Regions from separate parts of the Homo sapiens genome. Here all the other regions are linked to region 4. The links come from fine-mapping of genetic effects on gene expression. A gene starts in region 4. Each other region holds a variant in brackets. All regions are shown on one strand. Distances are from middle to middle.

The links.
Region 1: its variant is fine-mapped to the expression of RAB11FIP3 in whole blood (TOPMed, PIP above 0.99).
Region 2: its variant is fine-mapped to the expression of RAB11FIP3 in whole blood (INTERVAL, PIP above 0.99).
Region 3: its variant is fine-mapped to the expression of RAB11FIP3 in whole blood (TOPMed, PIP 0.93).

Annotation. Positions count from the first base shown.
Region 1 is chr16:488,810-496,334 of GRCh38, reverse strand. RAB11FIP3 (RAB11 family interacting protein 3) reads right to left here. Exons shown (of 14, transcript NM_014700.4): 5 at 7,335-7,484. It overlaps LOC107987417 (a long non-coding RNA gene), which reads left to right and starts at 2,795. Exons shown (of 3, transcript XR_007064933.1): 1 at 2,795-3,766; 2 at 4,010-4,266; 3 at 4,353-4,962. RefSeq lists enhancers at 796-1,373, 1,374-1,952, 3,411-4,032. The variant C/T (reference allele first, on the strand shown) is at 4,562.
Region 2 is chr16:274,788-282,312 of GRCh38, reverse strand. ARHGDIG (Rho GDP dissociation inhibitor gamma) reads right to left here and starts at 1,722. Exons shown (of 6, transcript NM_001176.4): 1 at 1,560-1,722; 2 at 388-567; 3 at 205-288; 4 at 1-16. The coding sequence starts at 1,632. RGS11 (regulator of G protein signaling 11) reads left to right here and starts at 6,369. Exons shown (of 17, transcript NM_183337.3): 1 at 6,369-6,464; 2 at 6,815-6,911; 3 at 6,980-7,030; 4 at 7,231-7,337. The coding sequence starts at 6,402. RefSeq lists enhancers at 824-1,581, 6,453-7,104. The variant T/AT (reference allele first, on the strand shown) is at 4,148.
Region 3 is chr16:466,388-473,912 of GRCh38, reverse strand. It overlaps RAB11FIP3 (RAB11 family interacting protein 3), which reads right to left. Exons shown (of 14, transcript NM_014700.4): 3 at 2,524-2,618. Among named protein-coding and RNA genes, the nearest start is that of RAB11FIP3, 45 kb to the right of the region's middle. RefSeq lists enhancers at 6,415-7,043, 7,044-7,525. The variant G/A (reference allele first, on the strand shown) is at 3,831.
Region 4 is chr16:422,307-429,831 of GRCh38, reverse strand. RAB11FIP3 (RAB11 family interacting protein 3) reads right to left here and starts at 4,183. Exons shown (of 14, transcript NM_014700.4): 1 at 3,112-4,183. The coding sequence starts at 3,825.

The DNA of each region.
Region 1 (7,525 bases), 67 kb before region 4:
CAGGGCAGTAAATATAGCCAATTATACATCAGCTGTCTGATTTAACCATCTGCAGTGGCACATGGGCCAAACTTACCTTCTCCCTCATTTCTGAGGTCCAAAGTTGTATTTTACAGTCTAGCTGCTGAACTATTAGCCTCAGCCTGCAGGAAGACACCCTCACCCCTGGGGCCTGGGAACCATCACGGTCCTGGAACTCACAAAGCCACGTCTCTCTTCAGCTTACCTGTCTCAAAAACACCTCTGATTTTCTTTCCAGGGTCAGGCAGAAAAGTCTACTGGAGGGGCCGGGCGTGGTGGCTCATGCCTACAATCTGAGCACTTTGGGAGGCTGAGGCGGGTGGATCTCCAGAGGTCGGGAGTTCGAGACCAGCCTGGCCAACGTGGAGAAACCCTGTCTCTACTAAAAATTCAAAAATAACCGGGAATGGTGGCGCATGCCTGTAATCCCAGCTACTCGGGAGGCTGGGACAGGAGACTCGCTTGAACCCGGGAGGCAGAGGTTGCAGTCAGCCGAGATCACGCCACTGCACTCCAGCCTGGGCAACAAAGAGTGAAACTCTGTCTCAAAGAAAAAAAGAAATCTACTGGAGGAGAATCAGCTGCTGTGCCAGGTATTAACGTAGAGCCCCTCAGCTCTAAGTCCATCCTTTTTACTTGCCCTGTAGAAACAGAGCTGGGCCCTTAGCAGGCTCTTCCTCCACAATGCTGCGTGTCATCAGCAGAGGGAGCCGAGGAGTGAACACAGCAGGAAGAGGTTTGCCTCCTGGTTCTGACCACTCTCTGCAGGGCCCTCCGACACCTGCAGTCTCCCCAGTACCTACTCCAGGGAGCATCCTGCCCACTGTAGCCAGAGCCAGGGGCTTCCCCGACCCCATTCGGGTAGCTGTTCTCTAGGGGTGCCTCTGCCAAGTGTCCTGCAACAGAATAGCTTTCCTGGCAGCCAGGAGGCAGGTTCCCCACAAGCCCTGACAGCACGGTGGTGTCCCCACCACGCCGTTTGCAGCTGGTGCAGACCTCAGCCCTGGGTGGCAGTGACTGTAGCTGGGGGGCTCTGCCCCGGCCCTGGGTGGCGGCTGCTCCTGTGCCTGCTGTCCCTACACTCTGCAGAGTTCTTTTTACTCATCCCAACCAGTGCCTCATTACTCCCATAGCCTGTGACATTCTTTTCCTTTCCCTAATGATTTTTTAAATTTTTTGTTTGTTTGTTTGCATTATCTTTTCTTAGAGGCAAGGTATGACTCTGTGGCCCAGGCTGAAGTGCAGTGGTGCAACCACAGCTCGCTGCAGCCTCGACCTCCCCGGCTCATGTGATCCTCCCACCTCTGCAGCCTCGACCTCCCCGGCTCATGTGATCCTCCCACCTCAGCAGCCTCGACCTCCCCGGCTCATGTGATCCTCCCACCTCAGCAGCCTCGACCTCCCCGGCTCATGTGATCCTCCCACCTCTGCAGCCTCGACCTCCCCGGCTCATGTGATCCTCCCACCTCTGCAGCCTCGACCTCCCAGGCTCATGTGATCCTCCCACCTCTGCAGCCTCGACCTCCCCGGCTCATGTGATCCTCCCACCTCAGCCTCCCAAAGCACTGCGATTTCAGCCCACACTCAGCCCATTCTTTGTAGTATTAAACTGTCCCTGTTCAAATTACTGTGTGGCTCTCCTTTCTCGACTGGAGACTAATAATGTATATTTTAATACAGGTTTTTTTTTTTAAGATGGAGTCTCACTGTGTCACCCAGGCTGGAGTGCAGTGGCATGATCTCGGCTCACTGCAAGTTCCACCTCCCGGGTTCACGCCATTCTCCGGCCTCAGCCTCCCGAGTAGCTGGGACTACAGGCGCCCGCCACCACGCCCGGCTAATTTTTTATATTTTTAGTAGAGATGGGGTTTCACCGTGTTAGCCAGGATGGTCTCGATCTCCTGACCTCGTGATCTGCCCACCTCAGCCTCGCAAAGTGCTGGGATTACGGGCATGAGCCACCGCACCCAGCCTTAATACAAATTTAATTTTATCTTATTATTGTTGAGACTCCCTAGAACTAATAGGACAGGACAGACTCATCGTTCAGTTTACCTACTGACCTTTCAGGGCCTGGACTGGCAGCCCAGCAACAGGATTTATAATTGAAAATACACCTCCAGGTGGCCAGGTGCGGTGGCTCACACCTGTAATCCCAGCACTTTGGGAGGCCGAGGCGGGCGGATCACGAGGTCCGGAGATTGAGACATGGTGAAACCCTGTGTCTACTAAAAATACAAAAGTTAGCCAGGTGTGGTGATGGGCGCCTGTAGTCCCAGCTACTCGGGAGGCTGAGGCAGGAGAATGGAGTGAACCCGGGAGGCAGAGGTTGCAGTGAGCCGAGATCGCACCACCGCACTCCAGCCTGGGTGACAGATCGAGACTCTGTCTCAAAAAAGAAAAAGATAATATACCTCCAGGCAGGCTGGGTGCAGTGGCTCAGCCTGTAATCCCAGCACTTTGGGGGGTCAAGGCGGGCGGATCACGAGGTCCGGAGATTGAGACATGGTGAAACCCCGTGTCTACTAAAAATACAAAAGTTAGCCAGGTGTGGTGATGGGCGCCTGTAGTCCCAGCTACTCGGGAGGCTGAGGCAGGAGAATGGAGTGAACCCGGGAGGCAGAGGTTGCAGTGAGCCGAGATCGCACCACTGCACTCCGGCCTGGGTCACAAAGCGAGACTCTGTCTCAAAAAAAAGAAAAAAGAAAATATACCTCCAGGTAAGGCACACTTCTTAGTTCCTACAAAATGAAATGTATTTAGAGGCTGCAGGGTACCTGGAAAATGCAACAGCTATTGGCCTGTTCTGAGGCGACTGGACATCGTATCTGACATCAAAGCTTCCAGAGGTGGTCTGGACTAAGTCACCTGTTGCCACCCACAAAGCATGACCAAATAAGCTTACTTTCAGGCAAGTCCATGGAAACTAAAACGCAAGATTCAGATCTCCTCCACTAAGGGTTATGGGGAGGATGTTCTGACTGGCAGTTGTGTGTCCTGATTGTGTTGAATTGAATAGCATATTAACCACTTGGTAGAGTCTTTTTTTTTTTTTTTTTTTTGGAGTCAGAGTTTGGCTCTGTTGCCCAGGCTGGAGTGCAGTGGCAGGATGTTGGCTCACCACAGCCTCCACCTCCTGGGTTCAAGTGAACCTCCCATCTCAGCCTCCCAAGTAGCTGGAACTACAGGCATGTGCCACCATGCCTGGCTAATTTTTATGTTTTTAGTAGAGACAGGGTTTCGCCATGTTGGCCAGGCTGGTCTCAAACTCCTGGCCTCAAGTGATCTGCCTGCCTCCTCAGCCTCCCAAAATGCTGAGATTACAGGCGTGAGTCACTGCGCCTGGCCCGCTTCATAGAGTCTTAGGAAAAGGGGTAGCAGAACCTGGACGTGAGGCTCCACAGGACTTGCTAGTTGTACTTAGCTACATCCTAGTCCCTTCTCTGCCCCCACAAAGCCCAGCAGAGGCGACCATGGCCATCTTGGAGCTAGTTCTCAATGTGGGAAAAAATCAGTTCTATGTCAAAAATCTTCAGAAAATGAGAGACGAGACCTGAGTCTTCAGGCTTACTTTCATGTACGGAGATGACATGCTTGCACTCAACTTATCGGTGAGTGGGAGGGCAAGTCTCTGCGTGGGAAGAACAAATGGCCCCTCCCCAAGCAGGCTGAGCCATCGTCGCCGGGCCTTGAACCCCTAGCTGAACACACACGCAGGCAGAAACTGATTTCCCCTAAAACAGAGGTTAGCGGATCTTTGGAATCCAAGATTCTGGACGGCCTCGGGTCTCCCGGGAGGGCCCTGGGCGGCCTCGGGTCTCCCGGGAGGGCCCTGGGCGGCCTCGGGTCTCCCCGGGAAGGGCCCTGGGCGGCCTCGGGTCTCCCGGGGAGGGCCCTGGGCGGCCTCGGGTCTCCCGGGGAGGGCTCTGGGCGGCCTCGGGTCTCCCGGGAAGACCCTCTTCAAAGAGCACTTCTGCTTTCTCACCAGTGCTGCCAAGACCCCCGATGCTCCAGAATGGCCATCAGTGCCGGGCCCCACCCCCATCCTCTCCACCTGAATGGGCACTGGCTGGGGGCCCTGTGCTTCACAGCATTTCACAGAACATAAGAAGAGTTAAGTGCCCTGGAAATGGAACTAGAGGCAGGACAGAAGCCTCAATAAGGCCGTGGGCAGTGAGCGCCCGCCAGCAAGGATGTGCCTCGGCAGAAGCCCCCTGGGGCAGGGACAGGGCAGGCTCAAGACAGGTAAGCAGTTTCACAGATACCTCTAAACATGCTAGAACCGTCAGGATAACTCACCTTTCTGCCACCTTTACAAACCCTCCCCACAGGCCAGGTCCCGTTCTTCAGGAAGCCGTCCCAGATTGCCAGCATGAGCCTGTATGCTCACTCACCTCTTCTGCTAGGCTAGGGCTGCTGTGGAAAGCTCCAAAGTGGCCCGTTTCTTCACCAGACCCTTCTGGAGAGCTGCCCACCCAGGGGCTTCACCGCAAGCGAAATCAACACGATGCCCAACGGGCACGTCAATATGTGCAAAGCA[C/T]TCAAAACCGTCTTCTGTAACTGGGAGTTAGACATGAGGGCCAGCCACAAGAGCTCCCCTGCTGAGACACAGTGAGCTCCCTCACACGCTCACTGTGAGTATTCAAAACTCCATTTAAACTGACAATCCTGAAAGCTGTTTACATATCTGTTCTTAAAGACTAAATCTTTAACTTTCCCAATTCTGTCTCATGAGCTCAATGAAAGAAATCTTTTAGTAAAATGCAGAAAGTATCCTCTTTCACACACAGGACAGACAGCACAGCTTGCAAAGACCGATCACTTCCTCCCACCAAGACAAGCACTGGCCTGGGCTGCGCATGCAGGGGAGGAGGCAGGGCCCTGGTGGCCCCACAGCGTGCAGGGTGGGAGGCGGGGCCCCAGGGAGAGTCCCGCTGCCTGAGAGGCTCCTGGTCGCCTCGGGGCAGGCCCTCAAGGGGGCTGTGGGTATCCGGAGTCCCCCACACCCTGGGAACAGACAGCAAGGCCAGGCGCTGGTCAGTTACCTATTCATTTCAAGATCACTCAGGCGGGCAGAAAGATCCTCAAGGCGGTTGATTTGTTTGTGGCACTGGCTACAGTAAAACTCAAACGCCTCATCAGTGAGGATGCTGTGCAGCTTTGCGGCAAGAGGGTCAGTGCTAGAGAGACAGAAGCATCCGTTCAGGAGAGGATGAGGACCCGTGTGGTCATCTGTGACTCCGCACGAGGGGCCGAGGGGAACAGGACAGGACATGGTGTGGAACAAAAGCACGTGGAGAGAGAATGAGCTGTGCAATGTTCTGGCTCTTGCCTTTAGACCGCAGTGAGCCCACATCCCTCAGCTGCCTCCAGGAGCCCAGGACAGGCACCAGCTCGAGCCTCAGGGGGCCCTGCACACACCTGCTCCTCTGGGTCGGGTGCCCAGAAGAAAGCAGGGGCAGCCTGAGAGCCTCCTTGCAAAGCAAAAGCCCTTCTTTAACAAGAAGGTAAAAAACCATACTGCTTTCTCTTTTGCCAAAAACACATCAATGTGATAGCGAACCATGTCTCCGGGTAAACTTGTACTTACTGTACTATATTTATGATTACTCCAAAAACCACCTCTAGCAAAAACTATGCATGAATGATAAATCTACAATAGTTTTGTGATTTTTTAAGATGTGCGTTAAAGCCGGGCATGGTGGCTCCTGCTTCTAATTCCAGCACTTTGGGTGGATCGCTTGAGCTCAGGCGTTTGAGACCAGCCTGGGCAACATGGTGAACCCGTCTCTACAAAAAATACAAAATTAGCCCGGCGTAGTAGCTCATACCTGTAGTCCCAGCTACTCAGGAAGCTGAGGGAGGTGGAGGCTGCAGTGAGCCATGATTGCACCACTCCAGCCTGGGCAATAAAGTGAGATCCTGTCTCAAAAAACCCCCAAAAAGACCGACCTGTCGAAACTCAGTGTTAGATTTTGTGGTGGTGCTAGCTAACCTCCCTGTGACTTCACCTCCAAGGGCTTCTGGGCCACTGGCAGGGGTGCTGCGTCTGCGACGCGAAGGCAAAGGAGCAAAGGCAGCCTCATCGCGGGCGCTGGGACCCACATGCTGTGGGAAACCATTTGGAAGCTCAAGTAAAGAAAGGTGAAAAGTGAAACATACAATGTAGCATAGACATTACACTTCAAACAGGTAACAATGAAAACACTGAACAGGAGACAGGGACAAACTAAACACGTAGGAAGAGGTGATTACCAAGCACAGAGACCCAAGTTTAGAAACGCCCCAGTCCTCTGGCCCTTGTCTTGACACCACCACGCGCTGGGAGAGGAAAGTGCCTAAGACAAGCACACTGCCTCTGAGGACCGTCTGTGATGCCTCACTCATGCACAGCTCTCCCAGGACGCTCGCCGGGACCAGAGCACACAGGATATCCGTGCAGGGTCCCCACACCCAGGGCTGACGGGCGGCTTCAAGGAGGGCACATGGGAAACAAAAGGAGGGGGACCCTATGGGCAGACGAGCTGCTCAGCCCCTCCTGCACCGCCCTCCACCCAGGTTCCCTGGGCCTCAGTAACAGCGGGCGGGCAGCAGGCAAGGGAAGACTCTTGTGGCTGCTTAAAGAGGCTCGGCCTTGACTGCTGGCAAAGATGGACGACAACCTAGTAGCAAAGGGGAGAAGGGATTGAAGTAACAACCCCATCGGCCAGCCCAGGGTCTCCCTGAAGTCAGGAGCGTCCTAGAGGGACTGACTCCCACGTGGGAGCCCCTAGCCCTCAGAAGTACGTACCCAGACCCCCATGTTCGGATCCAAGCCAAGAGGACTCTGGACTCCCTAGAGTGACTCTGGACATTTGTGAGTGGGCATCTCGCCCACTGCGTGTTGTGCTTCTATTTATTCAGAGTCACAGCTTTCCAGTTTGGGGATGTCAGATATTTATAAGGAAATGAATCTGAAGACTCACTTATGATCATGAGGCCTCCCTCAAAAGCCTGCACAGACCACCATGTGATCCACGGCCCACAGCAAAGGAGCCCGCAAGCCAAGTGTGCAAACACAGCTCTGTGCCACAGGATTTTGCTGAAGCCTCAGAAATGTAGAGTGATCTGGGGATGTGGCTGGAGAAGAGGGACTTCTCCCAACTTTCATAAATCCAGGTATAAATTTAAAATGTTTGAATATGGTTTACTTAATCACATGACGTCAAGGAAAGCAAGTTCTCTCACCAATGCACGAACCAAAAAGGGAAACTTCCCACTACTAACCACGGGAAGAAGAGGGAGGAGGGTGTGCTGGAACAAGGCGTCATTACCTGGGCGTGAGGAAAGCGGGGTCACTGCAGCCCAGCTGCCCGTTGCATAGGGTCTCTGGGGACAGCTCCGCCTCACTGCCTTCACCGTAGTCCTCAAAGTGCTCCTCGCCCCCGATCACCGTGATGACAGACTGGCCATGGGGGTGAGGCCTGCAAAGTAAAACAGAAATGATGTCTTCTGACTGAAGGCC
Region 2 (7,525 bases), 150 kb after region 4:
AGAACAGCCAGGTCCCCTATTGGGGAAACCTCAGCTAGGGTCGGAACTCCCCTACAGGCTGAGACCTGCTCCAGGAGCCCCCACGTAGGGTGTGGTACCCATGAGGTGTGCGACTGTGATGGCCCAGGGCTCGGAACTCAGGGGTGCAGAAGCGTGCCTGGGAGGGCCCTACCTGTGTTCAGGGTGCAGCATCCTGCGAGTTACCTGTGAGATCCATGACGACGGGCCCCGGAGCCTGTTCCGACAGGAGTGTCAGCCTGGTCACCTGCACATTGGGCAGGCTTGGGTCTGAGGAGAAACTGGAAGTCTGCAGGATGCCCCCCACCCCCACCAGGCTCCTCACCAGCCCCCCAGACCCAGCCCTCCAAGCCTAGACCCCTGCCATACCCACGGCCGGTGGCAGGGGCCCCAGCAGCACCCGCTTGTACTTGGCCAGGCTCCTGTCGTCCGGGTCCAGCTGCCGGATCTCCAAGAGGCTCTTCCTCCCCGGCGCCCGGTACTCGGGCACAGCCTCATCCAACACCTCGTCCACTGCCGGCGGCCCACCCTCCTTGTCAGCCAGGAGGACTGGGGGTGGGGAGGGGCGTGAGCAGCAGCCACTAGCGGACCCTGGCATTCGAGCACCAGGCTGGAGCCCCCTCTGGCCAGCTGTACCTCCCACTATCCAAAGGGACTCAAGGGAAGCCTCTGGGGGCTCAGGGAGAGAGCGAGCAGAGAGAGCAGGGCGGCCTGGGGAGGTGCCGCACCGCACCCAGACCTTCAGGAGGGGCCTCCAGAGACCGCCAGGCCTGCAGCTCCTCTGGCCCAGATGTCCACAAGGGCCCCCTCCCTGACTCGGAGACCAAAGGGCGGGGGAGCGAAGACTTCAGATGAGGGCAGCCCAGGGTCAGGGGCTACCTGCTAGAGAGCAGCGGCCCTCGGCGGCCCCCAAACCTACTGACCCTCTAGGGCCCTCGGCGGCCCCCAAACCTACTGACCCTCTAGGGCCCTCGGCGGCCCCCCAAGCCTACTGACCCTCTAGGGCCCTCCACCACCCTGCTCTGGACTGGGGTCTCTGAACACTTTCCCACAGTCTAGGAGTTCCTCCCCATGGTGCTCGGGTGCCGGGGGCGGCTGTCTCCAAATCCCTGGGCTCAGGCTCTGCGCCGCCTCCCATGGCGCCCCGGGCTGGTGGCCTCCTGAAGCCCCTCTCCCTGGTGCCCTGGGCAGGGGTTTCTGAGTCCCTGCCCACTTCGCTCCCGTCTTCTCGGGGATCACCACACGCCCTACAGAGCCTGAGCCCCAGCCCCAGCCCCACCCAAGACAGAGGGGCTCCAGGCGGCGGTGTCCAGGGGGAGAGGGTCCCAGCGCCGCCGCTTCCCAAGCCGACCCGTCCGCACCTGGTCCCTTCCCCACAGGGCTGGAGCCTGGATGAAGTCCCCCACCCCTGCCAGACCCCAGCCGGGGGGTCGGCGCCGCGAGGTCCCCATGCGCGCCCCCAAAGTTGCCGCGGGGGAGGGGCTACTCCCCGCCCGGGGCTGAGACCAGCCGAGCCCCCCGCCCCTGCCCGGCCCGCTCACCTCGGGCGCACAGCGCCAGCCGGAGCAGCTCCAGCAGCTGCGCCCCCAGCTCGCACGCGTCCAGGCCCAGCATGGCGGCGCGCGGCCCGGGCGCCGCGGAGCCGCCGAGGAGCCGCCGCCCGCCCCGCCGCCGCCCCGCTCGGCGCTCAGCCCCGGCGCGACTGCGGTGAGCTCATCCCGGCCGGGAGCGCCCCCCGCGCCCAGCCGCGCCCGGCAGAGAGCCCCCAGCCGCTCCGGACCCCGCGCAGCCCCGCAGAGACGCGCGTGTCGCCCGCACGGGCCGGCACCCGGGTCGCCCCCGCCGGCGTGCCAGGACCCCGCACAGAAGCGCCCGGACGCGGACGCACGCAGCCGCGGTCACGATCCCCGCCGCCCGCCCGGCCCGTGCCCGGCTCTGGCCAGCAGGGCTGCCCCACCCCCACGGCGCGGCGGGAGCCCGAGGGGGTCTCCTGGGAAACCCTCTGCGGGGCGCCGTGGCGCAGGTGCGCCCCCATCCCCAGGGTCTCATTATCCGCGGCCACACCTGGGGCCGGACCGCGCGCCCCCTTCCCCTCCCCCGCTCCTGAGGGAGCTTCTGTCTGGGCCGAGGGGGACTCCGGGGGCCTGCCCAGCCTTGGGGTGAGGGGCTGGCCCAACACCCTACAGGTTCACGGTCATCAGTAGGGCGGGACCACAGTGGGCGCGGGTCGCACGCACACCCAGGAGGCAACAAGGGCCCCTCAAAGGCTTAGCGACCTGGCTGCGCTGTGTGAGTTCCCAAGAGGGGGTGTCCCTGCAGGGCTCTTGGAAACCCAGTTACCGAGCCCCCTGTCCTCAGGGAGAGGACACTGACAAGGGGGCGGAGTACAGAGACCGGAGCACAGAGGGGGCTTCTGATATTGACACCTAAACTGAGACCTGTGGGTGGGTGGGGGGGATGGGACCCGGCAGGGGACAGGGGTGAGCAGGCCCTGGCTGGGACAGCTGGACCAAAGGCCTGCGTCTGGATAAGGGAGAAGGGGTCCGAACACCAGCCTGAGTCCCTTTCTTAGACACCCCTGGCCGGTTCCAGGGACACCAGAAATTAGACCCGCCCTTGCCAAAGAGCTCCTCAATTGAGAGAAGACCACCTTGGGTGCTAGGGGGCATTGGGGTTTGGGTGGGGACTGTCTCCCTTGCCCCCCAACTGCCCACAACCTTTCCAGGGCAGGATCCTATGAACTTGTGCCCAGGCCCCCCTAGAGCGCCACCTCTGCTGACCCTTCGCTGCAGGGAGCGGGGGCTGTTAGGACACTTGTCCCCAGGCCCACAGCTCCAGCTCCTGCAGCTGTTACCAGATAGAAGGTCTTGGAGGTGAGTTGTCCAGGTTCTTGGTGGGTTGAACAAAGAATTGAACAAAACGCACAAAGTAACAAAAGAACAACGAAACACAAGGAAACAAAACTGAGTCAGAAGAACGGAGTAAGGAAAGCACAGATTTAACGGAAGGCAATTCACAGAGTGGGAGTGGGCTGGAGCAAGTAGCTCCAGAGCCTCTGTAATTAGGATTTTTATTAAGCAAAGAAACCTGACCACAGCCCTTGTGCCCTTTAGAGGCCTCCAATTGGCTACACCCTATGAAGGATTGGCCCGAGACCAATCAGAGGTGAAGTGGAAATTTCTGTCTTGTTATCACAGCAGCCAGGATGTGGCTTGTGAGCTGCCCAATCCTGCCTAGAACTGGCTGCACCTGCTGTTCCGTTTCTTATGCCCAACCCTTGGCTACCCTCATTCCCTATTCTGCCTCACAGCTACCATGGGTGCCCACCCCTGCAGACAGGGCAGCCAGACCTGGGCCACCTCACCCCACCTGGGTGTGGGGCATGGGAGGGCTCACTGGGATCCAAGCGAGATGGTACCCTGGAGTAAGAGACCCCACAAGCCCCCTGCCCCAGCTCATGCTGAACGTGGCCTCTCCGGCAATGGAAATGGACTCAGACCACTATGTTAGGGGCTCCCAGCCCAAGGCCAACCGCCCACCCTGCCCAGCCCCTAGCACCCTCTGAGTGGGTAAGGATGGGGAGAGGTACTCTGCCTCCAAGAAAGCAGAAATAGACCAGATGCGGTGGTACACATCTGTAGTCCCAGCTACTCAGGACGCTGGGGTGGGAGAATCACTTGAGCTCAGGAGTTTGAGGCTGCAATGAGTTTATGATTGCACCACTGCACTCCAGCCTGGGTGACAGAATGAGACTGCCATCTCTCAAAAAATAAATACATAGCCAGGTGCCATGGCTCATGCCTGTAATCCCAACATTTGGGAGGCTGAGGCAGGAGGATCACTTGAGGCCAGGAGTTCAAGATCAGCCAGCCTAGGCAACACAGCAAGAAACTGAGGCCCTTACAGACAGGGATAAGCGAGGGGCTACGTGTATATTTATCTACAAAAATAAAAATGAAATTAAAAAAAAAATTAGTGGCCAGGTGCGGTGGCTCATGCCTGTAATCCCAGCACTTTGGGAGGCCAAGGCAGGTGGATCACTTGAGGTCAGGAAGTTTGATACCAGCCTGGCCAACACGGTGAAACCCCATCTCTACTAAAAATGCAAAAAAAAAAACAAAAAAAAAAA[T/AT]TAGCCGGGCATGGTGGCGCATGCCTCTGATCCCACCTACTTGGGAGCTGAGGCAAGAGAATCGCTTGAACCCAGGAGGCGGAGGTTGCAGTGACCCGAGATTGCACCATTGCACTCCAGCCTAGGCAACAAGAGTGAAACTCCATCTCAAAATAAATAAATAAATAATTTAAAAAATAAAGAAAGCAAGCAGAAATAGATGCATTTGCACCTTTTAAAAATGGTGCTGAGGCTGGGCTCGGTGGCTCAGGCCTGTAATCCCAGCACTTCGGGAGGCCGAGGTGGGCAGATCGCCTAAGGTCAGGAGTTCAAGACCAGCCTGGCCAACAAGGTGAAATGCTGTCTCTACTAAAAATACAAAAATTAGCCAAGCGTGGTGGCGGGGGCCTGTAATCTCAGCTACTCAGGAGGCTGAGGCAGGAGAATTGCTTGAATCTGGGAGGAGGAGGTTGCAGTGAGACGAGATTGCGCCATTGCACTCCAGCCTGACAGAGCAAGACTCAGTCTCAAAAAAAAAAAAAAAAAAAAGATGCTGGCTGGGCATGCCTTTAATCCCAGCACGCTGGGAAGCTGAGGCAGGAGGATGGACTGAGCCCAGGAGTTTGTGACCACCTTGGGCAACATAGTGAGACCTCGACTTAGTTTTTAAAAAATGATCCGACCGGGTGTGGTGGCTCACACCTGTCATCCCAGAACTTTGGGAGGCCAAGGCAGGTGGATCACCTGAAGTCAGGAGTTTGAGACCAGCCTGGCCAACATGGTGAAACCCCATCTCTACTAAACATACCAAAATCGGCCAGGCACAGTGGCTCACACCTATAAGCCTAGCACTTTGGGAGGCCAAGGCAGGCACATCACCTGAGGTCAGGAGTTCGAAACCAGCCTGGCCAACGTGGTGAATCCCTATCTCTACTAAAAATACAAAAATTAGCTGGGTGTGGTGGCGCGTGCCTGTAATCCCAGCTACCTAGGAGGCTGAGACAGGAGAATCGCTGGAACCCAGGAGGCGGAGGCTGCAGTGAGCCAAGACCGCATCACTGCACTCCAGCTTGGGTGACACAGTGAGACTCCGTCTCAAAAACAAAAACAAAAATAAAAATTAGCCAGGCGTGGTGGTGGGAGCCTGTAATCCCAGCTACTCAGGAGGCTGAGGCATGAGAATTGCTTGAATTCAGGAGGCGGAGGTTGCAGTGAGCCGAGACTGCCCGGTGGGGCCTGAAGATCCTGGGCCTGGCTCGGGGTGCACCTGGGGGACAGGCATAGCCATTGGAGGAGGGAGAGAGCTGGGAGTGGAGTGGGGCCTGAAGCCTGGCGGCCGCCGGTGACACTAAGTGGGTGTGTGTTGAGGGCCTCCCTGCAGTAAAGCTCCTCTCCAACAGTGTCAGGGTGCCCTGGGCAGGGTTTCTGCTCATTCCCCAGCGGGCCACCCAGGCCTGCGTGGAGCTGAGGGAAGTGAGCCATGAGCCATCAGCCACTTTCCCGGAAGGACCCCGGATAAGGGACCCACAGCAGGAGATGGGGACAGCTGGGTCACACTCTGCAGCAGCCACGTGCTCCACTGACAGCCGGCATCCGGCCCATGTAGAAAGCTGACCCAATCTCTCATGCACCCTGCCCCTAACCAGCCACCGTCACAGCAATGTATGCAGTCTTGGCCACAAGCATCGCAGGACACAAGGCCTCGGGCAGTCATACCGCTGGCCCTGGCCCCGGCCCCACAGCCAGGCCTCTAGTCCCTGTATGTCCTCAGGGCCCCACACATAGGACCGGGGTTACAGTGGGCCCTAAACCACGTTTCCCACCCCAGTTCACTCTCCCTACGGGTCTCCTCTACTCACGGAACCCCTCTCCCTCTCTGAACCCCCATCCCCTCCGCTGCCCTCCCTGAGACCCTCCCCATAGTAACCCCCCCTCGCTGATGAGCCCCTCTGCCTCTCCCAGAGACCACCCCCTGCTCCAGCTGAGCTCCATCCCCTCACATCCCCCCTCGGCCCCCGGCCCACACCCTCCCCCGTCCCACTTCGCCTTCACCCACGAGGGCCTCAGCGTCCCGGGACCTGGGTCGGGGGGGTGACTCGGGTCGCTCGTGGGGGGCCGGCTCGTTTGCCTCTGGGCCGTGGCCGTGTCTCTTAAAACCCGAACCGGGGCCTGGGCGACTCTGGCCTCGCGGCCCGAGGGTTAACCCGGGCGCGGCGCGGCGCGGGGCGGGGCCGGGCGGGACGTCGGTCATCCCCGCCGGCCTCGCCCCGCAGCCATGGCCGCCGGCCCCGCGCCGCCCCCCGGCCGCCCCCGGGCGCAGATGCCGCATCTGAGGAAGGTGCGAGGCGGGTGGGTGTCCCGCCGTCCCCCGATTTCCCGGCGCCCGAGGCCGGGAGGGGCCGGAGAGCATGGGGACACGGGGGCGCGCGGGGCGGGGCGGGCCTGGGGCGGAGGTCTGCGAGGCCGGGAGGGGCGGCGAGGCCTGGGGCCCTTGGGGGTCTCCGGGGTCTCCCCGGCCCTCCCCGGCCCTCCCCGGCCCGCCCCGCGTCCCCGCCGCCAGCTGCGGCCTGGAATCCGCCGCCGCCGCGCGTTAATCTCCGCGCTCCCGGATCCGGGGCATCCCGGCCGGTGCCAGGGAATCAGGGTTGCGGGGCGGCCAGACACCCCCTGACGACTCCCTCCGCCCAGATGGAGCGGGTGGTCGTGAGCATGCAGGACCCCGACCAGGGCGTGAAGATGCGGAGCCAGCGCCTGCTGGTCACCGTCATTCCCCACGCGGTGACAGGTGAGGCGCGCCGGGGCGGGGGTGCGTGCGCGCCTCGGCCTCCCTCCACCTCTGTCTCTCCCGTGCAGGCAGCGACGTCGTGCAGTGGTTGGCCCAGAAGTTCTGCGTCTCGGAGGAGGGTGAGCGCCCTGCCTCCCACTGGGCCCTGGGGTCACTGGGCTGGTGGCCTAGGCCTGGGTTTTCCTGGAGTCTGGCAGTTCTCAGAGCCCTGCTGAGCGCGCTGTGCAAGGGTGGGGAGCACATAGGGGAGAGGAGGCCCGGCTCGTCCCGCCCTCGCCCGCTTCCGCGGCCCCGCGCTCACCGTCCCACCCCTCCCCAGAGGCCCTGCACCTGGGCGCCGTCCTGGTGCAGCATGGCTACATCTACCCGCTGCGCGACCCCCGTAGCCTCATGCTCCGGCCAGACGAGACGCCCTACAGGTTCCAGGTCAGGCTCGGGGGTGCAGGTGGGAGCCGGTGGGACCCCCACCCCCACCCACCCAGCTTACCAACTCGGGGAGACAGGAGGGGCGCCGAGCTTGCTGGGATTGGAGTGGGACTCCGCCATGTCGCCGTGGGCTGGTGGTCCATCGCCCCCTCCCCAAAAGTCCTGGACCGCAAGTACGGATGTGGTGA
Region 3 (7,525 bases), 44 kb before region 4:
AGAGGCAGAGCTGTGGAGACACGGAGGATCGGTGGTTGTGGGGGCTGGTGTGAGGGATGAGCCGGCACTGAATCGACTCTGTGACACTATAATCGTGGACCTGTCAAAACACGGAATACACACCACCAAGAGTGAACCCTCAACTACGGACTTTGGCTAATACTAACATATCAGGCTGGGTGCGGTGGCTCACGCCTGTAATACCAGCACTTTAGGAGGCCAAGACGGGTGGATCGCTTGAACTCAGGAGTTTGAGAGCAGCCTAGGCAACACGGTGAAACCCCATCTCTACAAAAAAAAAATACAAAAAATCAGCTGGGCGTGGTGGTTACTGAGTGTGGTCCCAGCCACTGGAAAGGCTGAGAAAGAAGAACACTTGAGCGCAGGAGGCGAAGGTTGTGGTGAGCCAAGATCGAGACTGTACCACCACACTCCAGCCTGAGTAATAGAGCAGACCGTCTCAAACAAAACAAAACAAATAATCATGTAACGTGATCCCGGAATGCTCTACACTATGTTCCATTTTCTGTAAACCTAAAATTGCTCTAAAACATGAAGCATATTCATTTTTTTAAGTCAAAAAACTTTCTTCCATTCTAAAAAAGAAATCAGGATCTAAAAATATGAGAAGGATTAGCTCTGACATGTCAGGTTCCCACCCTTCTGAAGTGACAAGCGTGAGGCTCGGCCACACCCTTCAGACCACGTGGGCCTTTAAGGATAAAATGCACTGGTGCCTTTGGTGCCTCGAGTAACGTCACTCAAGGTTTCCCTGCCCAGGGCTGCCATAACGAACTAGCACAGACCACGGGGCGTGAAGAAACACCAGTTTATCCTCTCAGTTCTGGAGGCCCGAAGTCCAAAGCCAAGGTGTGAGCAGGGCTGGCTCCTGCCTAAGGCTCTCGGAGAGGATGCATCTTTGCCTCTGCTGGCTTCTGGGAGCCCCAGGAGTTCCCTGGCTCTGGTCAGTCTCTGCCCTGTCTTCCTATGGTCTTCCCCCTGTGTGTCTCTCCCGTCTTCCAGGGACACCTGTCACTGGATTTAGGGCCCAAACCAGCATGATATCACCTTGAGATCCTTAATGAACTACATCCGCAAAGACCCTTTTTCCAAATAAGGCCACATCCACAGCTGCTGGGTGGACATATCTTTTGAGAGGCCACTCTTCAGCCACTGCACCATACATAGGATATAAACAATCAACAATGCCCTAACAAACATGAGAGGGGAACAAAAAGACGGATACACGTGAGAAAGAGTGCACAGGCACATGAACGCCCAGGAACACACAGTTCCCCGGACGTTGCAGACCAAGGGCTCTGGGTTACCCTGCAGAGCCTTGGGCATCTCCTCGTGAAGAAGCCGGGTCCTTCTCAGGGCACAGGAGCCACCGTCTGTAGTCCTGGGGTCTCCCAGCACGTTCTGCACACTGCAGCCATGCGAGAGGGTCCAACTCCCACCACACGCCCTCTTAGCCAGCACCTCACTGCTGCCTCACGTGCAGAAAGAGCACACCAAGGCCAAACATGGGACCCACGGTGGGCGCCCTGGCCCCAGAAGCTGCAGCCCAGCTGATAACTGGGACACCGCCGTAAGGCAGAACCACCCCCAGGGTCTGTGTGGGCAGAAGTTAAGCTGCCCACCCAAGGGTGAGGGTGACTAATCCCTGGGGCAGCTTCTCGGAACAGGGAACTGAGTATAATACCATGGCTCCCACGGTACAGTGGCGTCCAAAAGCAACTCAAAAACTACCCTGTGCCAGCCTCAGCTTTCGAGGAGTCAGGGCTCAGAGGACTGACATGAGAAGCCCAGGCCCTACCGGCCAGCAGCTCAGCCCCACTTCTGGTACCCTTGCTCGGCAGCAGGCTGACCAGGACTGGCGGCTGCCACCTCCACCTTCCCGGCGGCCCCCAAGGGCTCAAGTTCAACTTCATGCATTTTCTGCTGCAGCCACGTGGCTCTCCTGGAATCTAACCCTCCAGACCGGCGGACATGGTTACGCTCTGTCGACCACGGCTGTGCTCGAAGACCCTCTCCCCAGCTATGTTGAGAACAAGGGACCCACAGTGACAGGAGACACAGGAGACGCCACGTCACCATGACAACCCTGGCTGCATCTGGGAGCAGGGTGGAGGACAGCCAAGCAGGGGCAGGCATTAGTCAGGCATCCCCAAACACAGAAAATCATTTGCAAGTTGACAAAAGGAATCCTCCCAAGCCCTCTGCTCCGCCTGTGCCTGCCAGCCTGGCAGCGGGTGGTCATGACATCACTGCCCACCCCACTTCTGCTGGCGACAGGCCCTGGGGGAGGATTCCTGCCCAGGCTGACAGGGCGTGTGGGACAGACAACTGTGGGCCTCCCGTCACAGCCACAGAGCCCCACGGTGCACACAGGGCGGGAGGCCCTTCCTTCACGCCAGCTTCTACGGAAGACAGCCCGGAGGCAGGAGGCACGAGCTGTAGGGCATAAAGGAAGAGGTGGATGCCAGACTTCCCCCAAGCTCCTGGGTGAAAACCACTTGCCTCATAGGTGACGAAGTCATCGAACTCGTCCGGGCAGGCCAGGGGCTCCTCATCTTGGGCAGAAGCGACACCACCGTAGCACTGGCCATCAGGATCTGCAGGGAGAAGACCTCGTGCTCAACAGGCCACCCATAGCCACCCAGTGACGGGACCCCTGGCGGCCTCGGGACTCCCTGGGAAGGAGGCCCCCAGGGACAGATGTGTGGGAGTTGGGGGCCCTGGGGGGGGTCAAGACAAGCAAGGGAGTGAGCATGAGAAATCCAGGGAGAGAAAACAGCCTTGCCAACGGGTCAGAGATGCGTTGCCCACAGGAACAAGGCTTCTGGAGAGAATTCTGAGGAGGAGATGCAGAGGTAGGAGATAAACTTTTTATTTCTTAAAAGAAGCAGACAGCACTGCAAAAAAAAAAAGAGCAAGACATTGAGCTCCATAAAACTGTCCATGGCCTTTAAAAAGTGTTAGGTACCAATCAGATTTAAACCTTTAAAAACATTTACATGAGAAGGTGTAGGTATGATGAAATAATACAAAAACAACATCTTTTCCTGGGTGCTGGGTTCACGCGCAGTTTTCATTTTATTTTCTTTTTTTGCTTATCTTCTATAATCAATGTTCTATGAGAAAAACTTTAAAGGAAAAGCTATCTTCTCATGAGAGACAGGCTATAATTCTTACGTCAGCTACAGTCATCACTTTGCAAACACAACCAATCCCGCAGCACCTGCCTCTCCTCCTGTAGGAAAAGGCACTGGCTTCCAGCGTCTCAGTGATATTCACAGGTCAAAGCACCTTCCAGGGCCTGTGAGTGACAGAAGACACTTAGGTGTCTTCACACTGTCTCACTATTAATTCAACTACTTGCCTAAAATAGACCAGCTACTTATAAAATAGCATTACTTAATACCTTTAACACAATCTATTCTAATGTCAATCACTTATTTTAAAAGTGAAGGTTGGGGCCAGGCACGGTGGCCTATGCCTGTAATCCCAGCACTTTGGGAGGCTGAGGCAGGTGGATTGCTTCAGCCCAGGTGATTGAGACCAGCCTGGGCAACATGGTGAAACCCCATCTCCACAAAAATACAAAAATTAGGTCGGGTGCAGTGGCTCACACTCGTAATCCCAGCACTTTGGCAGGCTGAGGCAGGAGGATCATTTGAGGTCAGGAGTTCAAGACCAGCCTGACCAACATGGTGAAACCCCATCTCTACTAAAAATAGTAAAAATTAGCTGGGCATAGTGGCGAACACCTGTAATTTCAGCTAATTGGGAGGCTGAGGCAGGAGAATCACTTGAACCTGGGAGGC[G/A]GATGTTTCAGGGAGCCGAAATCACACCACTCTGCACTCCAGCCTGGGCGACAGAGCAAGACTCCATCTCAAAAAAAAAAGAAAGAAAGAAAAGAAAAGAAAAAAATCAGCTGGACATTGTGGGACACACCTGTAGTCTTAGCTACTCTGAAGGCTTGAGCCAGGGAGGCAGAGGATGCAGTTGGCCAAGACTGCACCACTACATTCCAGCCTGAGTGACAGAGCAAGACCCTGTCTCGAAGAAAAAAGAAAAGTGGAGACCAGGCATGGTGGCTCACACCTGTAATCCCAGCACTTTGGAAGACTGACACTAGAGGATTGCTTAAGTCCAGGAGTTCAAGACTGGCCTGGGCAATATAGCAAAGATCCTATGTCTACAAAAAATAAAGATAAGGCCGGGTGTGGTGGCTCACGCCTGTAATCCTAGCACTTTGGGAGGCCGAGGCGGGCGGATCACTTAAGGTCAGGAGTTCTAGACCATCCCAGCCAACACAGTGAAACCCCATCTCCACAAAAACAATTAGCCAGGTGTGGTGGGGGCATGCCTGTAGTCCCATCTACTCGGGAGGCTGAGGCACAAGAATCACTTGAGCCTGGGAGGTGGAGGCTGCAGTGAGCTGAGATCATGCCACTATACTCCAACCTGGGTGACAAAGTGAGTCCCTGTCTCATAAATACATAAATAATACATTTAAAATAATAAAAAATAGGCCGGGCATGGTGGCTCACGCCTACAATCCCAGCACTTTGGGAGGCTGAGGTGGGCAGATCACGAGTTCAGGAGTTCGAGACCATAGTGGCCAACATGGTGAAAACCCGTCTGTACTAAAAATACAAAAATTAGCTGGGCATGGTGGTATGTGCCTGTAATCCCAGCTACTTGGGAGGGAGGCTGAGGCAGGAGAATAGCTTGAACCGGGACCCGGGAGGCAGAGGTTGCAGTGAACCAAGATCGCGCCACTGCACTCCAGCCTGGGCTACAGCGAGAGTCTGTCTCAAAATAATAATAATAATAATAATAAATTAAAAATTAAATTACATTTTAAAATGCTAACAGTCTTGCCTGCGCTTATAAACACTGAAACACAGAACTAAAAACTTTCAATATACAGCGAAGCATTTTGGACACAGCGCATGACAGCTCAGGTTCTGACAGTGGGCAAACAATCTGAGGGTCTTGCCCCAGAGGGCGGAGCAGGGGATATGAACACAGATGGCATTTTTATATTCTTGGTAGGACCTAAATACCATTCTCATATTAGTTTTCCTTATAAAAACTAAAACAATTTTCAATTAATTAGGAATTTTTCACGTGCGTTTCCCTTATTCTTCCAAAGCGTGAGGGTGTGTGAGACACAGCAATGGCCTATTTGGAACAATCCCTCTCTATCTCATTCTATTCCTGAAACAAGGCCTGTGGCTGTGACAGGAAAGCCTCCTTGTGCTTCCCAGCAAACTAGGCCAGCACATCCTGCTGGTCACTCCTCGACGCAGACAGGGCTGACAGACAACACAGGCTGCTGCAGCCACGATGGAGCTAACACCTGAAGTGAACTTTGGCTGAAGTGCGGTTTGGATGATCACATTTTCCTTTCTTCTAAATGCTATGAAATAATTCCAAAATCATCTTCGACTTCGTTTTATTCTAGTTTCACTCTCCTTCCGAACGAAACATAAATCATGACATCAAATTACTCAAAAGTAAAGCAGACCCCGCAGCCCCAGAGGCCATGTGTCCAATGCCATGGCAGCACCGCCTCCCTGACGCCCCAGGACCTCCTCCTCCCTGACGCCCCTGCACCTCCTCCCTGACTTCCCTGCACCTCCTCCCTGACGCCCCAGCACCTCCTCCCTGACGCCCCAGCACCTCCTCCCTGACTTCCCTGCACCTCCTCCCTGACGCCCCTGCACCTCCTCCCTGAGGCCCCTGCACCTCCTCCCTGAGGCCCCTGCACCTCCTCCCTGAGGCCCCAGCACCTCCTCCCTGACGCCCCTGCACCTCCTCCCTCACTTCCCTGCACCTCCTCCAACGCCCCTGCACCTCCTCCCTGACTTCCCTGCACCTCCTCCAACGCCCCTGCACCTCCTCCCTGAGGCCCCAGCACCTCCTCCCTGACGCCCCAGCACCTCCTCCCTGACGCCCCTGCACCTCCTCCCTGACGCCCCTGCACCTCCTCCCTGAGGCCCCTGCACCTCCTCCCTGACGTCCCAGCACCTCCTCCCTGAGGCCCCAGCACCTCCTCCCTGAGGCCCCTGCACCTCCTCCCTGACGTCCCAGCACCTCCTCCCTGAGGCCCCAGCACCTCCTCCCTGACGCCCCTGCACCTCCTCCCTGAGGCCCCTGCACCTCCTCCCTGAGGCCCCAGCACCTCCTCCCTGACGCCCCTGCACCTCCTCCCTGACGCCCCTGCACCTCCTCCCTGAGGCCCCAGCACCTCCTCCCTGAGGCCCCAGCACCTCCTCCCTGACGCCCCAGCACCTCCTCCCTGAGGCCCCAGCACCTCCTCCCTGACGTCCCAGCACCTCCTCCCTGAGGCCCCTGCACCTCCTCCCTGACGCCCCCGCACCTCCTCCCTGACGCCCCTGCACCTCCTCCCTGACGTCCCAGCACCTCCTCCCTGAGGCCCCTGCACCTCCTCCCTGACGTCCCAGCACCTCCTCCCTGAGGCTACTGCACCTCCTCCCTGACGCCCACTCCACTCTGCAGTCAGCTCTGCAGTCAGCTCAGTGTCCCACCCCTCACACCAGCTCTCAGGGATGCCCCACCATCCTCTTCAGGAGCCTGGAGCTGGAGACAGAATTGTGAGGCCTGCCTCTCACCTGCTCCTTCTGACCCTGCCTCCCTGTGGCCTCCAAACATGCCAGGTGCAGCCCTGCTGGGATGCTGCCTTCCCATCCCAGACGTTCTCAGGGAGGCCTCCCCACTCCTCTGCCTCCCTAGCTCCTGCCTTACTTTGTGGTCTGTCTCCCACTAGAAAGCCAGCTCCCAAGGGCAGGGGTTCTGCACTGCCGTTTCGTGCTACGTCCCAGAGCCTGGAACAGGCTGGTTCGACAGCACTCACGGGCCCGTTGCCCCATGTGTCCCCATCCATGGTCCTCACAGGTGCCAGCCGTGCTCTCCCTCGGCTGCAGCCACCTCCACCAGCCTGGCTCAAGCTCTAATGCAGTGAGATAGGAGAGCCCTGGCCGGCTCACGATGACTAGCTCACCGCCCTCTCAAGCAGACAGGCGCAGGAGCCCTCCCAGGCCCATCTGTCAGCTGCTGGGAAGGAGAACGGGGTGCCCCAGCTGCTGTGGGATTGGCCCAGGTGACAGCAAAGAGAGAAGGGGACGGTGTCTGGGAGAAGGCCCCAGCTTGGCGTGTCAGGTGGCTGGGCAACCACTAAGAAACATCTGGAGATGGGCTGTCCTTGGACGATCACTCTCTCACCCCTTCAGTCACTAAGCCAAGACACCGGCAACCACAGGCAGCCACAGTCCACAGCTGGCAGCCCCCAGGCTTCCCAGACAGAGCATCGGGCTCCTCCGAGGGCAGCAGGCCAGGCTAGAGGCTTCATTTTGCTTGGTGGGCATCTCCCACACCCTGACTCCTGAGCTGAGAGTGGGCACCTTCCAAGCCAAGGCCTCCCAGGAACCCCTAGAGCTGAGCTTGCCCCATTTCACGTTAGCCATGGTCCACAGGAACAAACCAACCC
Region 4 (7,525 bases):
TACCTCTGAAAATTTGATAAAAATTAAGATACTTGGCCGGGCACAGTGGCTCATGCCTGTAATCCCAGCACTTTGGGAGGCCGAGGCGGGTGGATCACCTGAGGTCAAGAGTTCAAGACCAGCCTGGCCAACATGGCAAAACCGTCTCTACTAAAAATACAAAAAATAGCCAGGTGTGGTGACGGGCACCGGTAATCCCAGCTACTCGGGAGGCTGAAGCAGGAGAATCGCTTGAACCCGGGAGGCAGAGGTTGCAGTGAGCCGAGATCACACCATTGCACTCCAGCCTGGGCGACAGAGCAGGCGAGACTCCATCTCAAAAAAAAAAAAAAATTAAGATAATCTAGTTGTTATCATCAAGGACAGTAATGTGACTGGACTAAGAGTCTCTCATGTGCTCAATATTTTGAAATCTCAAGGTAGAAAGTACAAAAACTTATGACCTTTATTGCTGTTATCCAGTTAATCTGAACTGTTCCCTAGCGTTTTTAAAAAAATCATTAATGTCTTTAAAAGAATCGGTATCTTTTGGAAATATATACTGAAGCATTTATGGAAGAAATGATATAATGTCAGGAACCCACTTCAAAAATCATCTGGGGGTAGTGAGTGGTGAGTTTACAGATGAACCAAGACTGCTAAAACTGAGCAATGGCTACAGGGTTACATAACATGAAAATCAACCTTTCTTTACCCTGTAAATTATCTGTTGCCAAACAGTAACTTAGCTTTAAGAAATCAAGAGCTCTCCTCCATCCCAGGAAGCCGGCCCAAGTCCAGGCACTCAGATCACACCCAACATTGCTTCTTCCTAAGCCGTCTAGAAGAACAGACAAGGAGTAATACCACAGGAGATCCCTTCCACTTCCCCATCCTCACCAAATCCCAAGTCATCCAGCCCTTGCCCCCAACCTTCGAATTTCATCAAGAGCTCTTGGAATTCAGAGTGAAGAATTTTGTCTCATTTCTACTTTGTGATGACAAGAAAGCTCAGCCCCAAATAGCAACACAAAGTTTTTCCCATTGTGATCATTAAGGGAGGTTATGACAAAAGATGTTTCTCAAATAAAAAGAATTGTATGAAAGTCAGTAAGATATTATCACAATAGGGATATTGTGAGCCACCACATCTAAGAAGAGGCATCTAAGGTCTAAGGGCCAAAAGACCTAGTTCTACTCCTGTGAGACCTTGGGAGAGCTATCTGACCTTTCTGGGTTTCCAGTTTCTTACCTGTAAAGTGGGGATGAATCCTGCTTACCTACTATCTCAGAGAACTGTGGTATGATCCAGTGGAAACATCCTGAGCCTCACAGAAGTTCTCTATCAAGAGTTGGGTTATGGTAACAAGGAGCAAATGTGGTACTCTCCTAACTTCTTTGCTGTACTGAAGCAAGAGTATGTTTGGGAGAAGAGACAGCGCAGTAGCCAACAGCAACCAAGGGAGCTCAAGGTGCTCTCCAGCCCAGGGGCAAGAAGGAAACGCAGCAAAACACCTGGACCAGCAACCACCATCCACGCTGACCATACAGGAAAGTATCAGTCACATATTTCACTGCCCATTAGTGTAGGTGGAAAACTACCCTGACAATATCCCAACCGGAGCTAAGCTTGCGAGCATTGCAGGCTGCCCCGCACGCACCTGTCTGCACATCTTCTTAATGTGAACTCAGCAAGGAACCCTGATTTATCAGGACCCTGTGTTTTTTGTTTTGTTGCTGTTTTTTTTTTTTGAGACGAAGTCTCGCTCTGTCGCCCAGGCTGGAGTGCAGTGGCGCGATCTCCGCTCACTGCAAGCTCCGCCTCCCGGGTTCACGCCATTCTCCTGCCTCAGCCTCCCGAGTAGCTAGGAGTACAGGTGCCCGCCACCACGCCCGACTAATTTTTTTGTATTTTTTAGTGGAGACGGGGTTTCACCATATTAGCCAGGATGGTCTCAATCTCCTGACCTCGTGATCCGCCCGCCTCGGCCTCCTAAAGTGCTGGGATTACAGGCATGAGCCACCGCGCCCGACCATCAAGGTTCTTAATGTTATGACTGACACCCTAAATAGCAGTGTGCCAATTTTACCTCTTTTCTTACAGACCTCTTGGCTTAAACATGCATATGTACTTGAACACCCACTTACCAGATGTCTGCATGTGTGAGAAGTCAAAATACAAAAAATTGACAGATGCACCTTAGGGATTTCCTGCTAAGTAAAATATTTAAAAGTGAGCACTGGTATTATTTGATGTCCACCGGGTTATTGGCAGAACACACACGGCCCTGCTGTTATCTCCACTTAAACTTTATTAAGTGCTGAGGTAGACAGGAACAACTGCATCTTGGGGCCCACCTTTCCCCCAGGAGCAGGTGCCCTGAGGACCGCGTGGACCCCTTCCACACTGTACTGTGCGTAGTGCCTGTCCACGCATTTCACCTCTCCTACGAGAGTGGACGTGGCCCTAACGGAGTTCTGCTAGACTTCTGCATTTGCCAACAAGCTCCGAGGCTCATTGCCTTCCTCCCCAAAGGCACCAAAGTAAAAATTCTTAATTCCAGGACTCTCTACAAGCATTGACTGTCTCCCAAATAAAAGATGAAATCTAAGTAGAAAAGATGTCAACCACACACAGTAAAGTAATTGTACTCAAAATAGGTGTCTATCAGTAGGATCTCAAGGCGTCTGGGCAGCCTGGCCTCTGCGGCTAGAACTTGGGTGAATTCAGCCGAGCAGTATCTGGGCCCTCGGGTGGGGGAATCGCGGGGAACTTCTTCATTCAGGGGCACGTCGATCAGGCACCCTGGGGGGGTGGCGATCAGGCCCCCTGGGGGGGTGTCCCCAGGCGAGGAGCTGACCTCGGTAAGATCCAGCTGACGAGGCGCTGGGGGGAGGGGAAGAAACTGACTCCCCAGAATAGAACCTCCTTTTAAGAAGGGAAGAGGGACTCCAGCGCAATTCAACCAGAAATCCAGGGCCGAAGTGGTGAATAAGCAGAAAAAGCAGGACCGTCAGGTCTTGACAGTGCCTTTCCCGACTCCAGGGGCAGCGTCGACCGGTCCCACATCAACCCCGCCGGCCAGCGCGCACCTGCCCAGTTCCCACGCCCCGGCCCGGGCCGCTCCGTACCTGCTCTGCCCCGTAGACCGTAGCAAACTGGATGAAGTCCTCGATGCGGACGAAACCGTCCCCATCCCCGTCCAGGGCATCGAACACGGCTCGGAGGCGGGGGCCGTCCTCCTGACTCCCCACGGGCTCGCTCGGAAGGGGGTGGGTCTGGCTGAGGTCCGAGGGCTGCGGCGGGGACCCGGGACCTTGCTCCAGCGCCAGCTCGCCCGCCGTGGGCGCGGGGAAGGGAGAGAAGACGTCGACCTCGCCCCGCGCTCGGTGGCTGCTGCTGGACCCCTGCAAGCGGAAAGGCGCGCTCTCCGGGCAGCTCGCGGGGCCACACTCCTCGGGCTCCTCAGTCCAGGAGAACAACGGGTCGAGTTCTGGAAGCGGCGCTTCGGAGCGCGGCCCTGGGCCCGGGGCGTCGGGGCTCGCAAGCTGCCCCCGCGGGCCGGAGCGCGGCGGCGGGGCGGACGGCCCGGGGTCTCGCGGGCCTCCCTCCAGCCCCGGGGCCGGCCCGGCGCTCCAACGCGCCCCGCCATCTGCAGCGGCCCCGGGCGCAGGCTCATCCAGGCCCGGGGACTGCGGGTCGGGGCCGCCGACGGGCGCTCCGAGGCGTAGCTCCGCAGGGCCCGGAGCCAGTTGTGCCGCCCCCGGCCCGTCCGGCCCGCCCGGCTCCGGGTCGGGCCCCGGCGGCTCCGAGCCCGGGGGCGAGGCCGGCGGGGCCGACGCCATGCTCCCGAGAGGCTAGTGGTGCGGAAGGGCGCGGGCGGCAGACAAAGGCGCTCAGGGCGCGGCGGCGGGCGCGGGCATCCCCTCGGCGGCGCGGGCGGGCGCGCGCGGGGCGCCCGGGCTGCTGGGGCTGGCGCTCGGGCCCTGCTCTGTCCTCGCCCATCTTCGCACCGCGCCTCAGCTGCCCTCGGCCCGGCGGCGCGGCGGGCGCAGGCCCATGGCGGCGGGGCGGCCTAGGGAGGGCGGCGAGGATCCGGGCGGCGGATGGCGGGGGACGGGGGCCGAGGAGGCCGGGGGACGGGGGCCGAGGAGGCCGGAGGCCGCGGAGCCTGTGAAGCAGGATGAGGAGACTAAGGAGGCTGAGGCGCCTGAGGTACCCGGAGAACTAACGCCGCCGCCGCCCAGGCCCCGCCCCCCGTCGGGCCTGACGTCAGCACGTCCCGGCGGGGTCCCAGCCCCTCGCCGGCTTGCTGTAGAGGCAGGCGCCGGGTGTGTCGCGGCAGTGCAGCGGCCGCGAAGGGGTGTTTTGCTGTATGTCATATTCCTCGTTTCGCCAGAGCGGGGGTCCCGAGCTTCGGGCGCGGGACGCGGGGGTGCTCCGAGGCTGCGAGTGGAGGCGTGACGTGACGTCCCTGGCAAGAGGCGCGCGGAGTCAGGCCTTACTTAGAACGTGTTCCCGCCGCACAGCTACCAGCGGGCGCGACCGCTACCCACGCATGGTGCGGTCGAGTAAACGGCACCGCCTGGCGAGCGAGAGACGCAAAGGGACATAGCCCCCTAGGAGCTGAGCTCTTCGGGGGTAAAGCGTTCTCACGTTGATGAGACCAGGAGGCGGCGCACGCCTGGCTCCGCGGCCCAGGGGTTGCAGGTGCCCCAGGGTTCGCGGGGCGCAGACGCCGCAGAGGGCGACGCCCTGCCCGGGTCCCGCGCGGACCCGGGGGACGCAGGGTCTGACACGGAGTGCGGAGGGGCCCCAGACACGCAGTCCATGTCCCTTGAAACCAGAGGCACGCGCGGCCACGCGCTAGGCCTTTCCCTTAAGCCTGTGACCAAGATCTCCGGGACTCCCAGCGTTGGGACGGGCGCGCTGGCCCACGCCCAAGCGGGAGGATCGCTTGCGCCCAGGAGATTGAGACCAGCCTGAGCACCAAAGCGAGACCTCGTCTCTACAAAAAATAAGACTCAAGAAGACACCCAGGGTGAATCGCCCGTCTGCAGCCAGCCTCCCGAGCACCGTGGCCGCGTCTGACAACTGACCTCTGTGTCTGGGTGTCCCTGTCCTCAGAGGGACACGGGACCTCAGAAAGGACCACAGCCCGGCGGCAGGCATGATGGTGGGAAAGCTAGTTAGGACAGGTGAGGCACTAAATTTAGCCTGTCATAATTTGTATCAGGGAAATGATGAACTTGTATTTTTACACACCATGGGCACCAACACAAGATATGGTTTCGTAAGCAGCTTTGGCAAGAACCAAAGGAACGGAACCTCTGCTTCCAAGTGTACGGTCAGGAGCAGCGTGTTAATTAAGTGAGTCATCTTCCGTGGCAGAATCCCAGGGTACATGGGACCAGACTTCGCGAGGCTGGCATTAGGAAAAGGAATGTGAGGGATCCTCCTCCCCAAACCGTATTCTCATTTTCTTGTAAGAGCTGTACGTGTTCATGAGGAAGATACTGCATTCAAAGAACGAAATCACCAGCAGCTTTGGCAAGAATTCAAATTTGGGCTGATGCCTTCGGCCGGATAAAATTTTCAGAAGCAGTGATAGTGATGTGTCAACCTTTCTAAATAGGGGTGTTAGTGTGGGCGAGGCAGAGACAGCAGGCTCCCTCTGCTTTTATGTGCCGGCGCTGCCAGAGGCAGAAGGCTGGCTTTCTGAGAGCAGGGGCCCGCACGCTCTGTCTGTGCTAGGGCTGGAAAACGTCCATTGCGTGCCCGGCTGGTGTCCTCCATGGAACCACAGCCTGGAAGCCTGCACCTCCCTGCCTGGACCAGTTAGAGGCTGTTCATGAAAGACTAAAGGGACAAGTTCCCGTCTATCCGTCTGCTGTTCAGAGCTACTATCTGTGTCCCCTTTGTAGGCTGTGGGCTGTAGCAGTTCCTTCTTTTCTTTTCTTTTCTTTTTTTTCCCCGAGACAGGGTTTTGCTCTGTTGCCCAGGCTGCAGTGCAGTGGTGCGACCATAGCTCACGGCAGCCTCAACCTCCTAGGCTCAAGAGATCCTCCCACCTTAGGCCAGGTGTGGTAGCTCATGCCTGTAATCCCAGGACTGTGGGAGGCTGAGGCGGGCGGATCACGAGGTCAGAAAATGGAGACCATCCTGGCTAACACGGTGAAACCCCGTCTCTACTAAAAATACAAAAAAACAAAAATTAGCCAGGTGTGGTGGCAGGCACCTGTAGTCCCAGCTATTTGGGAGGCTGAGGCAGGAGAAAGGCGTGAACCCGGGAGGCAGAGCTTGCAGCGAGCCAAGATTGCACCATTGCACTCCAGCCTGGATGATAGAGCAAGACTCCGTCTCCAAAATAAAAAATAAAAATAGAAGAGAGATCCTCCCACCTCAGCCTCTCCAGTAGCTGAGACCACAGATCTGCAGCACCTTATTATCTTTTTTTTTTTTTTGATATGGAGTCTCACTCTGTCGCCCAGGCTGGAGTGCAATGGCGCGATCTCTGGTCACTGCAACCTCCGCCTCCCGGGTTCAAGTGATTCCCCTACCTCAGCCTCCTGAGTAGCTGGGATTACAGGCGTATGCCACCAAGGCCGGCTAATTTTTTGTATTTTTAGTAGAGACCGGGGTTTCACCATGTTGGTCAAGCTGGTCTCAAACTCCTGACCTCAAGTGATCCGCCCACCTCGGCCTCCCAAAGTGCTGGGATTATTGGCATGAGTCACCACACTTGGCCTCAACATGCGTTTTGGAGGGTATAAACATTCAAAGCATAGCCTCCATCTTCTCACTCTGTCCTCACATGTTGGAGAAAGATTGTCTCTTTTGGGCTGGGCGTGGGAGCTCATGCCTGTAATTCCAGCACTTTGGGAGGCCGAGGCGGGTGGATCACGAGGTCAGGAGTTCAAGACCAGCCTGGCCAAGATGGTGAAACCCCGTATCTACTAAAAAATAGAAAATTTAGGCCGGGCGCGGTTGCTCAGCCTATAATCCCAGCACTTTGGGAGGCAAGGTGGGCGGATCACAAGGTCAAGAGATCGAAAACATCCTGGCAAACATGGTGAAACCCTGTCTCTACTAAAAATACAAAAATTAGCCGGGTGTGGTGGCACCCACCTGTAGTCCCAGCTACTCGGGAGCCTGAGGGAGGAGAATCGCTTGAACCTGGGAGGCAGAGGTTGCAGTGAGCGAAGATCGCACCACTGCACTCCAGCCTGGCGACAGAGCGAGACTCCACCTAAAAAATATATGTATATATTAGCCGGCCGTGGTGGCGGGCACCTGTAATCCCAGCTACTCAGGAGGCTGAGGCAAAGAATTGCTTGAACCCGGGAGGTGGAGGTTGCAGTGAGTCAAGATCACACCACTGTACTGCAGCCTGGGTGATGGAGTGAGACTCTGTCTCAAAAAAAAAGAAAAAAAATTATCCGGGGGCGGTGGCGGGTGCGTGTAATCCCAGCTACTCAGGAGGCTGAACAGGGTAATCACTTGAGCCTGGGAGGCAGAGGTTGCAATGAGCTGAGATCCAGCCAC